Linked DNA regions of Homo sapiens. The protein of the gene in region 2 interacts with the protein of the main gene of each other region in a biochemical or structural test. Each region holds a gene or a part of one and is shown on either strand. Other genes may lie near its edges.

Region 1 (7,023 bases), on a different chromosome or scaffold from region 2:
GGTATCAAGGGTAGTGACTTTGAAAGTGGGAATTTAGGATGAGGAAGAAGTAGCCACAGGAGGGTAGTAAGGGAGTAACAGTGTTCCAGGTAGGAGAAAGATCAACCTGCCAAAGCCCTGAGACAGGAAAGAGTCTGGCCTGATACTGGAACTGAAAGAAGGCTTTTGTGGAGTGTAGTGGGTGAAGGGGAAAGTGCTGTAACTGAAGATGGAGTAATAGACCTGCCCCCTTCCCACTCCCCGCCCTTTTATATAGATGTAAAGTCCTGGAATGCCTCAGCCAAACATGGGAACATCACCCATTCATTGGGCACATCAGATTCTGATCTGAGGAAATCACCTTGTGTGCTAATCTACTTCTGTCTTCTCTACCTCTTTTTTCCATATTGCTTTTATACCTTTTGCAAAATTAATGAAGAAAGAATTAGCAAAGCTAGTAGTCATTACTTTCTAGAGTTGAACACTTAAGGAAAATAGGCATGGTCTTACTGATTCATCCCATTCAGACAACACAAATCTTGAAGTTGGGTATGTCCCAGTGCTATAAGTAGCCATATATTGATTTCCCATTCCTAAATACATTTGAACCTTTAAAAAATCAATTTGTTTCCTGATTTTTATGATGAATTCTAGAAGTATATTAATAGCCACTATTTATTGAGAGCTTACCATGTGTCAGACCCTTTTTTTCTGAGTACTTTGCGTGCATTATAATCCTCACCACAACTTTGTGAGATAAGTCCTGTTATTGCCTCCATTTTCTTGATTGAAGAACCTGAGAAGTAGAGTGTTAAGGAATTTGCCCCAGGTCCCAGAGCTACTAGGTGGTAGAGCTGGGTTATGAACACAGGCAGTCTGACTTCCAGAGCTCGCGTTCTCTGTCATTTTGAGATACCACCTCTGTGTAATACGTTCCTTTAAAATTGAAGTAAAGTAGATGCCTTCCTGAAGTTTGTAAAGGCATCCTTTGCCAAATGTTTCAAGTTTGGATGAGAAAAAAAGCTGGGTTCAATGTGTATGTGCCACTTACAATCTAGATTTATGATCATGCCTCTTAGTCTCCATTTTCCCAAATTAAATCCATGTGATCTCATCTGCAGTACCCTCTCAGGCTTCAGTTATGTCAGTTCTCCAATGGGAGACCTCATCTAGCTCTGTCGCAGTTCAGGATTAGACTAGATAAAGCCCAAGGTAATTCCCCTTTCCTGAAGCAATGTAAATTCCGTAGTTTTAGCCTGTCCTGTTTTCAGCCTCCTGGAATTGCCTCAAGTGAAGGCATTACTGTTCTATAGCTTTTCATTCACTATGAAAAATGGTCCCAAAATTATCTTCAGCATTCTAATTGAGCAGATAGCCTCATTGCACCTTTTTTCATAGTCACCAATTGCCTAAAATAATTAGCTATTATAAGTGTCCTTCAGTTCCTCCTCTTAATAATTTTGGCTGCTCTTTAAGTTTCTTGACCTCTTTTTGTGCCACAGTACATGCAGAAGTGTGTGTGTGTGTGTGTGTGTGTGTGTGTGTGTGTGTGTGTTTTAATTGTGGTAAGAAGTACTTCATATTTGTTTATTATTTTCTGATCAGAAGTTTCGTGTACATGCATCACGTTTATTTTTCTTTACAAGCCCATTTCAAAACTGTTTTCAGACTTAAAGATTTGGAGACATAGAATATATAAATTGCTTGGCAGAATGAATTCTAATGAATATTAGAGATTTTACACTATACTCAATTCTTTACTTCATTTTGTAGTACAAATAGTAATGAAATAAAAGATATGACGTGAACTCTGTCCTCCAGGAATTTTTCTTTTTTTGAGGCAGAGTTTCACTCTTGTTGCCCAGGCTGGAGTGTAATGACACGATCTCGGCTCACTGCAACCTCCGCCTCCTGGGTTCAGGCAGTTCTCCTGCCTCAGCCTCCCAAGGAGCTGGGATTACAGACATGTGCCACCATGTCCAGCTAATTTTTCTATTTTTAATAGAGACTGGGTTCCACCATGTTGGTCAGGCTGGTCTCAAACTCCTGATCTCAGGCGATCCACCCACCTTAGCTTCCCAAAATGCTGAACAAACCCCCCTCCCAAAGTAAGGCATGAGTCACCATGCCCAGCCCAGGAGTTTTTCTTAAAATATTATTTTCCTTTAAATAATGAATGTACACATATAACATTTGATAACAATATAAAACAGATTATGATTAGGTGCCAAAGTGAGTGAGTGGTGCATGAACTATGTTAGGCTTTGAAATAAGAGAGGCCATGGTGAGCTGAGCATGTCAGAGAGGCTTTGGCAAGAGCCTGGAGCTCCTGGAGGGCAAGGACTCTGTCCCCTTCCTATATGTCCCCAGTGGCCTGTTGGAGCAGGTGTTCAGTAAGTATTGATTATAGAAATGATTGAGACTTGAACTTAAGCTTGAAGATTAAGTAAAATTTATTCAAATCTGAGAGAGGTTTTTTCTGTTTTAATGCCATCTATTGTGCTTTGTTTTTGATTTTTGTTCACTGTGTGAACTGTTTTATACTCATCTAATGAATTAATTTAATAATCATTCAATTTCTTTAAGGCAAAATGGAAAGGAATATGGCTTACAAGGCCCTGCGTGATTCTGCTTTTTTAAATTTTCTTTTTTTTTTTGAGACAGAGTCTTGTTGTGTGCCCAGGCTGGAGTGCAGTGGCGCGTGCCTCCCAGGTTCATGCCATTCTCCTGCCTCAGCCTGCTGAGTAGCTGGGATTACAGGCGCCCGCCACCGTGCCTGGCTAATTTTTTTTTTTTTTTTTTTTTTTTAATTTTTAGTAGAGACGGGGTTTCACCGTGTTAGCCGGGATGGTCTCGATCTCCTGACCTCGTGATCCTCCCGCCTCGGCCTCCCGAAGTGCTGGGATTACAGGCTTGAGCCACCGCGCCCGGCCTGTATTTTTTTTTAGAAGAGACGGGGTTTCACCATGTTAGCCAGGATGGACTTGATCTCCTGACCTCGTGATCCGCCCGCCTCAGCCTCCAAAAGTGCTGGGATTACAGGCGTGAGCCACTGCATGTGGCCTGACCAGTGGTTTTCAAATGCTCTTTAGCTGTGAAACTCTTCCTTGAAATGAAATCTTCTGCAGATATGCATGTGGAAAACAGGTGAAAAGGAACTTTTTTGTTAAAAAAAAAAAAAAGAAGAAGAAAACAAGGTGGGGTGAGGTGGCTTATGCCTGTAATCCCAGCACTCTGGGAGGCCAAGGCGGGTGGATCACCTGAGGTCAGGAGTTTAAGACCAGCCTGGCCAAGATAGTGAAACCCCATCTCTACTAAAAATACAAAAATTAACTGGGCACGGTGGCGCATGCCTGTAATCCCAGCTACTCGGGAAGCTGAGGCAGGAGAATCGCTTGAACTCGGAGGGCAGAGGTTGCAGTGAGCCGAGATCATGCCACTGCACTTCAGCCTGGGTGATAGAGTGAGACTCCATCTCAAAAAAAAAAAAGGATGTAGGCCGGGCACAGTAGCTCACACCTATAATCCCAGCTACTTGGGAGGCTGAGGCAGAAGAATCACTTGAACCCCGGAGACGGAGGTTGCAGTGAGCCGAGATCACGCCACTGCACTCCAGCCTGGGAAACAAAGTGAGACTCTGTCTCAAAAGGAAAAAAGAAAGGATGTAAATTCACTCAATTCATTTTTAATGTTATTGTTGGCTCCAAGTGTTTGGTGGATGAATGAATAAGTGAAAGAATGAACAGGCTGGGTGCAGTGGTTAACCCCTGTAATCCCTGCACTTTGGGAGACCGAGGCGGGTAGATCACAAGGTCAGGAGTTTGAGACCAGCCTGGCCAGCATGGAGAAACCCCGTCTCTACTAAAAATACAAAAAATTAGCCGGGCATGGTGGCGAGCTCCTGTAATCCCAGCTACTCGGGAGGCTGAGGCAGGAGAATTGCTTGAACCCGGGAGGCGGGGGTTGTAGTGAGCCATGATTGCACCGCTGCACCCCAGCCTGGACAACAGAGCGAGACTCCGTCTTAAAAAAAAAAAGAAAGAATGAATAAATAAGGGGATCTTTTTTCTATAGTCCCTATCTCCACTCTATGAATGGATGAGATCCTAAGTGTACCTTGATGCAGTTGAATAGGAAGTGTGGCGTGTAGCTTACAGGCAAATTCAGTGATGATACAAAGGATATAAAGGAGAATAAAGTAGGGTTTGTATCCTGCAACTTTTGAGTTGTTTTTCAGGTGTGAAATAACTGAGGCCCCTCTTCAAAAATCTGTTTAGTAGGAATGGGTTTGAGCTGATGATACATCCATACCTGCCAGCTGTACTCCTGAGTCAGTGAGCATGCGCATCTGAGAAGACAGCAGTAGACTGGGAGTGCAGTATGCCAGGGTGGCAGAGTCATTGCAATAACAAGCCAGGCAGCCCAGATTGGGGTTAGGAACTTTGTCCTCAATAGCACTGTGTGTCAACCAACAAAGCTAACTAAACAGAACAGCTCATCTCAACAGATGTTCATGTCACATCTCAGGACCAGGTCCTTTGCTAGGTGCTGGAGTTATAAAGATACATAAGAAACTGTCCTGGTTACTGAGGCAACTGTAGTCTAACTGGGGAGAAGGACACGTGAATAGTTTCAATACCAGGGTACTATGAGAACAACTATAAAACTTTCAAATTATAAACCCTAGAAGAAATGAGTTAGCCTTTATTGGGCATGTATTATGTCCCAGACCCTGTGCTACGCATGTGTCATGTATCGTCTCTTTTAATCCTGGAAATGTTATGAGGCAGGCAGTGTTATTATGCTTTTTTTTACAGAATAGGAAACTATAGTTTAAACAGTGCGTCCAATAGAACTTTCTGCAGTGATGGAAATGTTCTAGATCTGCACTGTCCAGTAAGTAAACACTAGTCACATGTGGCTATTGAATACCTAAAATGTGGTTAGTGGAACTGAGGGACTGAATTTGTGCATTTATTTAACTTAAATAGCCACATGTGGTCAGTGGTCACCATATTGGACAGCTCAGGCTTAGTGTTCTCAGCCTCTGCAGTGTTCTCTGTGATCTGGTCCTCCATTACCTCTGGTCATCTTCTACTTCCCCTCCTCACCCATTCTAACTTCACTGGCCTCCTTACAGGCCTTCAGATAAACCTGGCATGTCATTGCCCCTGCATCCCTCTTTCCCTTGCCTCCTTTAAATCTTGGCTCAAAGCTGGGCCTGGTGGCTCACGCCTGGAGGTGGGAGGATCACTTGAGCCCAGTAGTTCAAGTCCAGGCTTGACAACATAGGGAGACGCCGTCTCAAAAAAAAAAAAAAAAAAGTAGGCCTGGGTGGTACACATATAGTCTCAGCAACTGGGAAGCTGAAGTGGGAGGATCACTTGAGCCTGGGAGGTCAAGGCTGCAGTGAGCTTTGATCGCGTTACTGCACTCCACCCTGAGTAGCAGAGCAAGACCCTGTCTCAAAAAAAAAAAAAAAATCTTCACTCAAATATCACATTCTCAAAGAGGCCCACCCTGATCATCCCTGAAACTCCCTTAACCTACTCTTTTTTTTTTTTTTCTTTTTTTGAGACAAGAGTTTTGTTCTTGTCGCCCAGGCTGGAGTGCAGTGGTGCAATCGCAGCTCACTGCAACACCTCCCGGGTTCAAGTGATTCTTCTGTCTCAGCCTCCCGAGTAGCTAGAATTACAGGTGTGTGCCACCATGCCTGGCTAATTTTTGTACTTTTAGTAGAGATGGGGTTTCACCATGTTGGCCAGGCTGGTCTCGAACTCCTGACCTCAGGTGATCCGCCCGCCTCTGCCTCCCAAAGCGCTCGGATTACAGGCGTGAGCCACTACGCCCAGACCCCCTTAACCTACTCTTGTTCGTTCTATACCATTCACTATTGCTAACATGTTATGACTTATTATCATCATTATTATTATTGACTGTCCCCTCCCCCCACCTAGTAAGTGTCATGAAGGAGGTTTTTGTTTACTGATGTATCCTTAGTGCCAAGGATAGTGCCTGGAAGGTAGTAGTCACTCAATAAACCATTAGTTCACCGTTTAAGCCAGTAGGATTCACACCCAACCTGTCTACACCAGAACCTGTGTTCTTATTCACTATATTGTACTTCCTCCTTGTAAGCGTAGCATTCCTCACAAAGTAAATGAGAAAAGCTTCATTTGAAAGGAACAGGGGCCAGGCGCGGTAGCTCACGCCTGTAATCCCAGCACTTTGGGAGGCCGAGGCGGGCGGATCACGAGGTCAGGAGTTTAAGACCAGCCTGGCCAACATGGTGAAACCCCATATCTACTAAAAATAGAAAAATTAGCCAGGCGTGGTGGTGAGCGCCTGTAGTCCCAGCTACTTAGGAGGCTGAGGCAGGAGAATCACTTGAACCTGGGAGGCGGAGGTTACAGTCAGCCAAGATCACACCATCGTACTCCAGCCTGGGCAACAGAGTGAGACTGTCTCAAAAAAAAAAAAAAAAAAAAAGAAGGAACAGGTAAGAGAAAGCAGGTATCCTTAATTTCTCCAGTTTCACTGAACTATTAAATGTCTTCACGTAAATAAACAAATTGCAGCCATTTAAACAGCTGATTTATAAATGACAGTTCAGAAGGGCACATCAGCTCTATTTAAAATGCAGTGTTAGGCCACATAGAGTGGCTCACACCTGTAATCCCAGTACTTTGGGAGGCTGAGGAGGGCAGATCTCCTGAGGTCAGGAGTTCGAGACCAGCCTGGGCAACATGGTGAAACCCAATCTCTACTAAAAATACAGAAATTAGCTGGGCATGGTGGCGCACACCTGTAATCCCAGCCTGTACTTGGGAGTCTGAGGCACCAGAATTGCTTGAGCCCAGGAGGCGGAGGTTGCAGTGAGCCAAGATCGTGCCACTGCACTCCAACCTAGGCAATAGAGTGAGACTCTGTCTCAAAAAAAGGAATGTTAGTCTCCCCATTTTACATATAGTAAACAGGAAAGAGGAGATTTAGTATCTTATAGCCCAGTGGAACCCAGGGTTTGAAGATGCTCGTCCTAAATGG
Region 2 (7,279 bases):
GTTGGCAGGTAGCCCCTGGCCCCAGAGCAGCTCTGGAGGGTGGTCCTGGGGAGGCCTGGGTGGGAGGGCAGGGCCAGCTGGCACTGGACCTGGCCAAGCCAAGCCCGAGAGGAGGCCCACCTCTATCCAGCCTCGACAAGGCCACCTCCCCCAGCCCGTGGGTGGGGCTCTCCTGCAGCCCACGGCCGGCCTCCAGTCCACCCGCAGGACCCAGGATGACGTGTGGTGGGCGGCTCCCTGGACAGCCCCAGCATCCTCAGGCTGGTGGCGGGCCTCTCTCCCCGCCCTGCCCTCTGCCTCTCCCTCTGTCTGGGCTCCCAGCAGAGGCCTGGAGAGGGCAGGGACAGGTTCTGGGCAGTTCCCTGGGAGGGGGCAGGACTCCCAGGGCTGTTGCCATGGGGACGACTGAGCAACACCACTGGCTGGTGAATAAACAGGCAGGTTCCCTGACCAGTGACTGAGACAAAGACAACCACAGAAATCCCAGCTGGGGGTGGACAAGGAAATGCCTCCTTGGGAGAAGAGGGGGTGGCAGTAAAGGCCCTGGCGAGGTTGGGGAGCTGCTTGGGGGGGGGTGGGGACACAGACAGGAAGGGGTATCTTGTTCCTCGGGAATTTTCTTTCCCAAAGCTCCTCCCAGGCCATCCTTCCTGAGGATGAGAGGCAGATCCCTACTCTCTTGGTGGTGTCAGAGCACCTGGAATGGGGCTGGGTCCCCTCCCAGATCCCCATCCCCTAGAAGCCACACAGTGAGGGTGGAGGGCAGGTGGCCGGCTGGCAGGGTAAGTGGTGCAGGGAGTCTGTGAACACAGGTCTGCGGAGAGGCCATAAGCGCGAGGCTGTGCCAGGACCCTCGGGGGGCCCTGCCAGCCAGATGGCTCTCCATTTGTGTCTCTGGTTGAGTTTTCCCAGGGGTTTGTGGGGGGCACGTCCCTCAGCAGGTACATCCGTGGGGCTGCCCAGCCTCTGCACCTTGCCCTGAGCCCCCCGTCCTCCAGAACTCCTGGCCTGCTGCCGCTCATCCCTCATAGGCCTCAGGGTCCCTTGGACAGGCTCCCAACGTGCTCACCCAGATGGCTGGGGGTGACTTTCAGGAATGACCACGTAATGCAGCGTGGACAAGTGTGCCCTACAGAGACCTGACCTTTTGTTCACCTGTCTTGTTCACCCACTTGGCGAGGTCAGGGACCATGTCCAGTTCATCATGTCACCCTCAGGGGCCCCACCCTCTGGACCCTCCCAGACACCCATGTGCTGGCCTCCCAGCCCTGATCCCAATGCTGCTGAGGCCACACTTCACATTCTCTGTTCCCAGAGCTGCCTCCCAGCCGGCTGTCAGGCGGCAGATCCCTCCTTGCATCTGTGGCCCCCAGGCCTGGTGTGCGTCACCTGCACAAGTGTCCCGGGGCCCTAGGAAGAGGGGGCACCGCGGCCCAGCCTGGCATCCCCCCGTCTCATGTCTAATCCCAGCAGCAGCTCAGTAGATGCTGGGCTCCAACAAACCTGAGGTTCCTGGGCCACGGGGCCAGCATGCCCGTCGGAGCAGACACTCCACGTGGCTGTAGGAGTCCAACTACTCCACCCTCCTCGTCCTCCCAGTTCGGCTGAGAGGCTGCAGCTGCTGCTGCTGGTTTTTGTTTGTTTTTCTTTTAAATAGTAATGGGGTTTATCAGCTCTTGGAATAACGGTCTGTAGGACTTAATCAGGGCGCTGTCTCTGAGACCGGTCTTGGTTCTTCCTTTTTGACATACTGTCTTCGTCTCCAGGCTGCTTGACCTTCTGTTGGTTCTTGGAGCAGAAAAGTCAGGAGTCTCTGTCCCGTCACTGGCAGTGTTGCCGAGGGGGAAGCGGGGAGGAGTGGGGCTCCCAGGTGAGAGGGGGCCCAGAGCCTCATCCGCCCCGTTCATTCTAGAACTCAGCACGTTTCTTTTTTTTTCTTTTTTGAGACAGAGTCTTGCTCTGTCGCCCAGGCTGGAGTGCAGCGGCACGAACTTGGCTCACTGCAAGCTCCACCTCCCGGGTTGACGCCATTCTCCTGCCTCAGCCTCCCGAGTAGCTGGGACTACAGGCACCTGCCACCACGCCTGGCTAATTTTTTGTATTTTTAGTAGAGACGGGGTTTCACCGTGTTAGCCAGGATGGTCTCGATCTCCTGACCTCGTGATCCGCCTGCCTCGGCCTCCCAAAGTGCTGGGATTACAGGCGTGAGACACCGCGCCCGGCCCTCAGCAAGTTTCTACCAAGACAGGCAGCCCTAACCTGGCAGGTGGGGTTGGCCTGGGTCGTGGTGAGATCAAGGTTTGGTTCTTATGGGCAGGCCTCCTAAGCGATGACTGAGTGCCACTGTGTGTTCCGCCAGGCAGCTGCTGCTGCTCTCCATCCCTGCATGGACAACGGACATGGCAAACCATCAACACTGCTCTCCTTGGAGGCTGTCTAGGGAGGTCCAGACATCTTGGGAGAGACTGGGGTTCTCTTTTGCGCAAGAGAGCATGGGCAGGCTCTGCGGGAGGCCCTTGGGGCAGGCATCAGGGCTCTGGTCCTCCTTGCTTTGGCTCGGTGGGCCCGAGCTCTCCTGTCTCCCCAGGCCTCCTTTCCTCCGTGGGGTACAACTGGGCTCTGGGTGGGCAGGTGGGGGCTCCTGCAGGCAGTGCTGTTTTCTCCAAGGGGGATGCACGTGACCCGCCAGACCCTCCTGGAAGCCGCCTCTTCTCAGGGTGGTTGTGCTCAGCCCCCACTTCCCGAAGGTCGGTGAGGCTGGGGCTACAGTTTCAGACCAGAGCAGGCAGTGCCACCGAGAGGGTGCCGCGCGAGGTAGGCCGGCGACGGGGCTTCCTGGGCCGCAGTGCCATCCCGGCGACCTTGGCGAGGGGATGGGAACGGGGTGTCCGCACAGCCATTTCCAGGCGCCCGCGACGGCAGTAAGGGAGTGTCCCAGGCGTTGGTCCCGGCAGCCACACCTCGCTTCGCCTTTGCTCACTCATGGAGAGCCCTCAGCCGCCTCCCACTGCCGCTCCTGAATGCGCCTCACACATCCAGATTTGAAAGCACCCATAGGGCCGCCGCCTCCCACCTCCCGAGGAATCCGCTGCGCTGGGCCCGCAGGGAGGCAGGCTGGACGGCCCGGGCGCCTCCCCATTGGTTGGCCGGGCCGGGCTCGACTCCCTCGCGCGGCTGCCGGCCACAGGCTCACCTCCCTTCCCGCCGCGCCCGGGGAGAGGAAGCGAGGTGGCCTTTACCCCTGCGCAGGCCGGCCAGGAATGCGGGGCCGCGCTTCCCACTCTACCCGCCCGAGGGCTGAGGACGGCGGAGGCGAGAAGCGACGCGCAGAGTCCGGGCGCCGAGTGGTGGAGACGCGTCCCAGGCCGTTCGGATCGGGGCTGCACACGGGCTGGGGCGAGGCCCGGGCCGCTGGTTCCCGCCCCCTCCCGGAGCCATTCGTCCCCCGCAGACAACACGACGGGAGGGACCCACGCGCGGCCGCCGGTGCCCCTAGTCAGCCAAAAGCGAGCCCCACTGGCGGGCACCCCCACGAGGCCTGCGCCCGAGGTGCGCCGATCTCCGGGTGCGCCGAGGCCCCCGAGGGTAGGCGCGCGCGGTGCCCAGGCCCTTCCAGACCCCGCACCCCGGGCGGCCTTCCTTGGGGGCGCCTTTTCCGCACCGCGAGCGGCCCGCGTTGATGCCCGGCCGGGCTGGGGGAGTCGCCAAGTTTGCGAGACGCGCGCAGTGCAACCGCGCGTCAGGCGCGGGGACGGCCGGTGACCTGGGCACCCGCGCGCCCCCGAGGAACCTGCGCGTGGGCAGCGCCCGGTGCGCGGCCCGGGAAGGGAGCGGGTGCCCTCGCCGGGGTCGCCGCTCCCGTGGGGTGTTTCCAGGCTGCTCCGCGCTCGCGGGGCAAGGGCGCAGCGGGGGCCAGGGGGACCCCCGCGCCGCGCCGCCCCAGCCCCCCGCCAGCCCAGGGGAGGGGGCTTCCCACAATGCCCAGCGAGCTCCAGCCCGCACTTCCGCTGTCCGGCTGCCCGCGGGGGGGAGAACGGACCCCCGGCGCGGCCCCCTGCGACCCCGCGGCGCGGCGCCGGGAGCCGAGCGAGGGGCGGGGCCGGCGGCCGGGCCGGCGTGGGCGGGGCCCGGGGCGGTGGCCGCGGCCGGGGCGCGGCGCGGGCCAATCAGCGGCGGCCGGGCGCGCGCCGGGGGGCGGGGTCAGGGTCCGCGGGCGGGGCGCGCGCGCGCGGGCGGCGGGGGCCGCGGGGTTGGAGCGGGCGCGGGGGCGCGCGCCGGCCTGACGGACCGACGGACGGACGGACGGACCGAGCAGCCCCGGCGAGCGCGCAGCTCGGACCCGCCCGGACGCAGCGCCCTCCCGGCGGCGGCGGCGATCACCGGCGCCGGCCCGGCGGCCGCGGCGCCCGCCCTCGCCCGCGCCCCATGGGGTCACAGGTAAGCGGCGCCGGCTCATTGTCCGCGCGGCCGGGCGGGCGCATCGCGGCGGGGGCCGGGCCCGGAGCCGGGAGCCGGGAGCCGGGGCCGCTGCGAGCCCGGGCGCGCCCCCGCCGCCGGCCGCCCCGCCACGCCCCGCCCCGCGGGGGCGCCCTCCCGGGGGCCATCGGCGCTCCCAGCTGCGGCGCGGGCTCCGGGGGCGGCGGCGGAGACCCCGGCCCGGCCCCCGCGGGTGCCCCCCAGGCCGGCGGCGCGGGGCGGGGCGCGCGGGGGCGGCGCGGGTTCCCCGCGGGGCTGAGCGCGGAGGCGGCTGGGCTGCCCCGGCCCCTCGGCCCCCGGCACCTCCCGCCGCCGCCGCGCTCCCTCCCCGGCACCTCCGAGAGGGGAATTTTCCAGCTGGTAATTTCTGCTGCGTCAACGCCTGGCCCCGAGGCAGCCCGGGGGCGTCTTGGCGCCCCCCGCCCGCGCCCCCCGCCGGCACAGCCCAGCCGCACCCGGAGCCGCCCGCGCCGAGTTTGCCAAGAGTCGGAACTGCGGGAGGTGGGCGCGGGCGGGTCCCGGCGCCCTGAGGCCGGGGGGTCATTGTCTCCCCGGACGCCGGGCGCCGGCCTGGTCTCCATCTTAATCGCCGGCCGAACCGGGGCGCAGGGGCCTCGGGGCGGGGCGGCTCGGGGCGCGGAGGGCTCGGGGCGCGCGGGGCGGACGGGGCGCGCGGAGGAAGCGGGGTCCGCTGCGAGCCGCGTCTTTGTTTCTCTGTAAATAGACATGTCAGTTTCGCGGGGGAGCGCGAGCCGGTGTCTGACAACTCAATCCCTAAGGCAAACGGGGAATTCTCTGCGCCAGAGGGAGGGCTCCTGCTAGTTGGGGTTCCCCTGGCCCCGCTGACAGATTCACTGTTTGTAGGTTTAACGAAGCACACACAATAGGGCTGGACCGAGGAGCCAGGGTACAGACCAGATGGGGCGAAGAACGGATATTTTCTGACAGCGAAGAAATATAAACAAAAGAAAGTTTGAGATTCGCAGCGAATTTCCTCTCTCGCTTTCCGTGCTGCAATCTCAACGATGCATTTGGAGTGGATTACGGTGGCAAGATTGTGATCAGCATTGTTTAAAGAAATGCTAATTAGAAACGTGTTTAGCGCGCGGCCTGGGCGCAGACACCTGTGCGCCGAGAACTCACGGGCATTTTAATTGTATCGATTGTAGAATCTTTCATATTGGCTCTATTATCAGAGCTAACTTCCCGTTTGGGTAACAGACTGGATACATCTCTGCTGCTGGCACTCACGCTGCCTCTGCAAGGCACTATTTCACTCTACAAGAGTGGAAAATAGTTTGTTCATCAAAAGGAAATGTATAGAAGGGGTTTTTCACATGAATAATGAAGCAAGCGACAGTATTTATCAGAGTAGAACCTTTCTGCTCGGTGTGTTTTACGTGTTTCCAACTGGCACTTTTGGGCACCTCAGCCTGGTTACCACTGCAGAAAGGACTGAGGAGTGAGGGGAGTACTTGGGCACAAGTTACTGCAAATTTAGGTGGGAACTTACTGTGTCCCCTAAAAAGCTAGACATCTTCTCCGTAACTGAAGGAAGAGGGCTGGGGAGTTACTGTCAGATTTCTCCTTGGGGCGTGGAATGCACTCACTTTGAGGTGTTTAGAAATCCGAAATTCCGCCTTGCCTTCAGGCCAGCCTGGGGACAAGCATTTAATTAAGCCTCTCACTGACAGCATTATCCTGAACGTGAGAGTTTTCTTTTGCTTAGATGAGGTGATTTCTGTTCGGGTTTAGCTGTTTTGTGTGAGGATGAGTCGTTCTGTGCTCAGACCTGAGTTCCACTCCTGTTTCGGATGTTCGGGTTGGGTGGACTGTTACCTAAGGGCCCCCAGGTCAGTTCCACCAGGGCCAGGCTGACCCAGTGCCCTGCGTCCTCCGTCCCTCCCCAGCCCCTGGTGGTCACAGAGGTCAGGAGGTAAACCCTGTGAACGGTGAAACTGCTCCAAGGATTTAGAGGAAATGCCGTGGGGGGTACACAGTTGTTATTGTCAGACGATGTACTATTTACAAACACTGAATTAAATTTTAGCAGAGTGAACTTTCCAACACTGCCCTGACGTGGGGTTTTTAAATTAAGGGAAATTGGGCCACTCTGTCCCTGTGGCCTGTGTTTCTGGGACAGCGGTGCAGCTCCAGTGCTCTGTTCTCCATCAGAGGTCTTAGCCCGGCCTCTCAGAGCCCTGGAGACCCACTTCGTGCACGGTGCCTAGACGGCTCCACAGCCTGAGAACTGGAGCCGGTTCCTCCCACTGCCGTGACTGGTGCCCAGGCACCCGCTCCACTGCTGAGTTAAAGTGAGAGGAAAGGTCTAGAAGTCCTTGCCCCTTCCCATCCGCACACCCAGTGTCACGGCGTCTGCCGTGGTAGGTTCCCTGTCCTGGGGACTTCGTGTTCTTGCCTAAGTACCGTTCTTGTAAAAACTCAGGCTGCTGCTTCTCCCTGGGCTTTGCATGTTTTACCTGGAAGTCTCATGAGTGACCTTGAGTGATGGTTGATACTTCCCTCTACTGGTTTTTCTAGCAGATTTAAAAAAAAAAATACCCTTTGAATCTGTCCCCTCCCCTGGGGGAAAAATTCATCTTGTTGCTGCTAAGTTTGCTTGAATGGCCTGACTCCTAAGAATAAATGTTTGATTCAAAATCTCTATTAAGGCCACAGACTTATTCAGGGCTTTGAGAGGCCGCCGCCTTATCCTGATTGTGGTCCTCTTGCCGTCTGCCGCGGCTGCGGCGTAGCTGTGAACTTGTGCGGAGTGCTGGGGTCTTAGGCCATGGGGTCCATG

Evidence for each region. Proteins that work in one complex are often made in the same cells at the same time.
Region 1: of the proteins of ZBTB46 (region 2) and DESI1, one has a biochemical effect on the other in vitro, tested with the Homo sapiens proteins (one study listed by BioGRID).

What each region holds. Positions count from the first base shown.
Region 1 is NC_000022.11:41,611,037-41,618,059, reverse strand, and holds part of DESI1 (desumoylating isopeptidase 1), read left to right. Parts: intron 1-7,023. UniProt on the Homo sapiens protein: Protease which deconjugates SUMO1, SUMO2 and SUMO3 from some substrate proteins. Has isopeptidase but not SUMO-processing activity. Desumoylates ZBTB46. Collaborates with UBQLN4 in the export of ubiquitinated proteins from the nucleus to the cytoplasm.
Region 2 is NC_000020.11:63,828,255-63,835,533, reverse strand, and holds the start of ZBTB46 (zinc finger and BTB domain-containing protein 46), read left to right. Parts: upstream 1-4,269; 5' UTR 4,270-4,437; intron 4,438-4,703; exon of another isoform or gene 4,704-4,836; intron 4,837-4,896; exon of another isoform or gene 4,897-4,977; intron 4,978-7,279. UniProt on the Homo sapiens protein: Functions as a transcriptional repressor for PRDM1.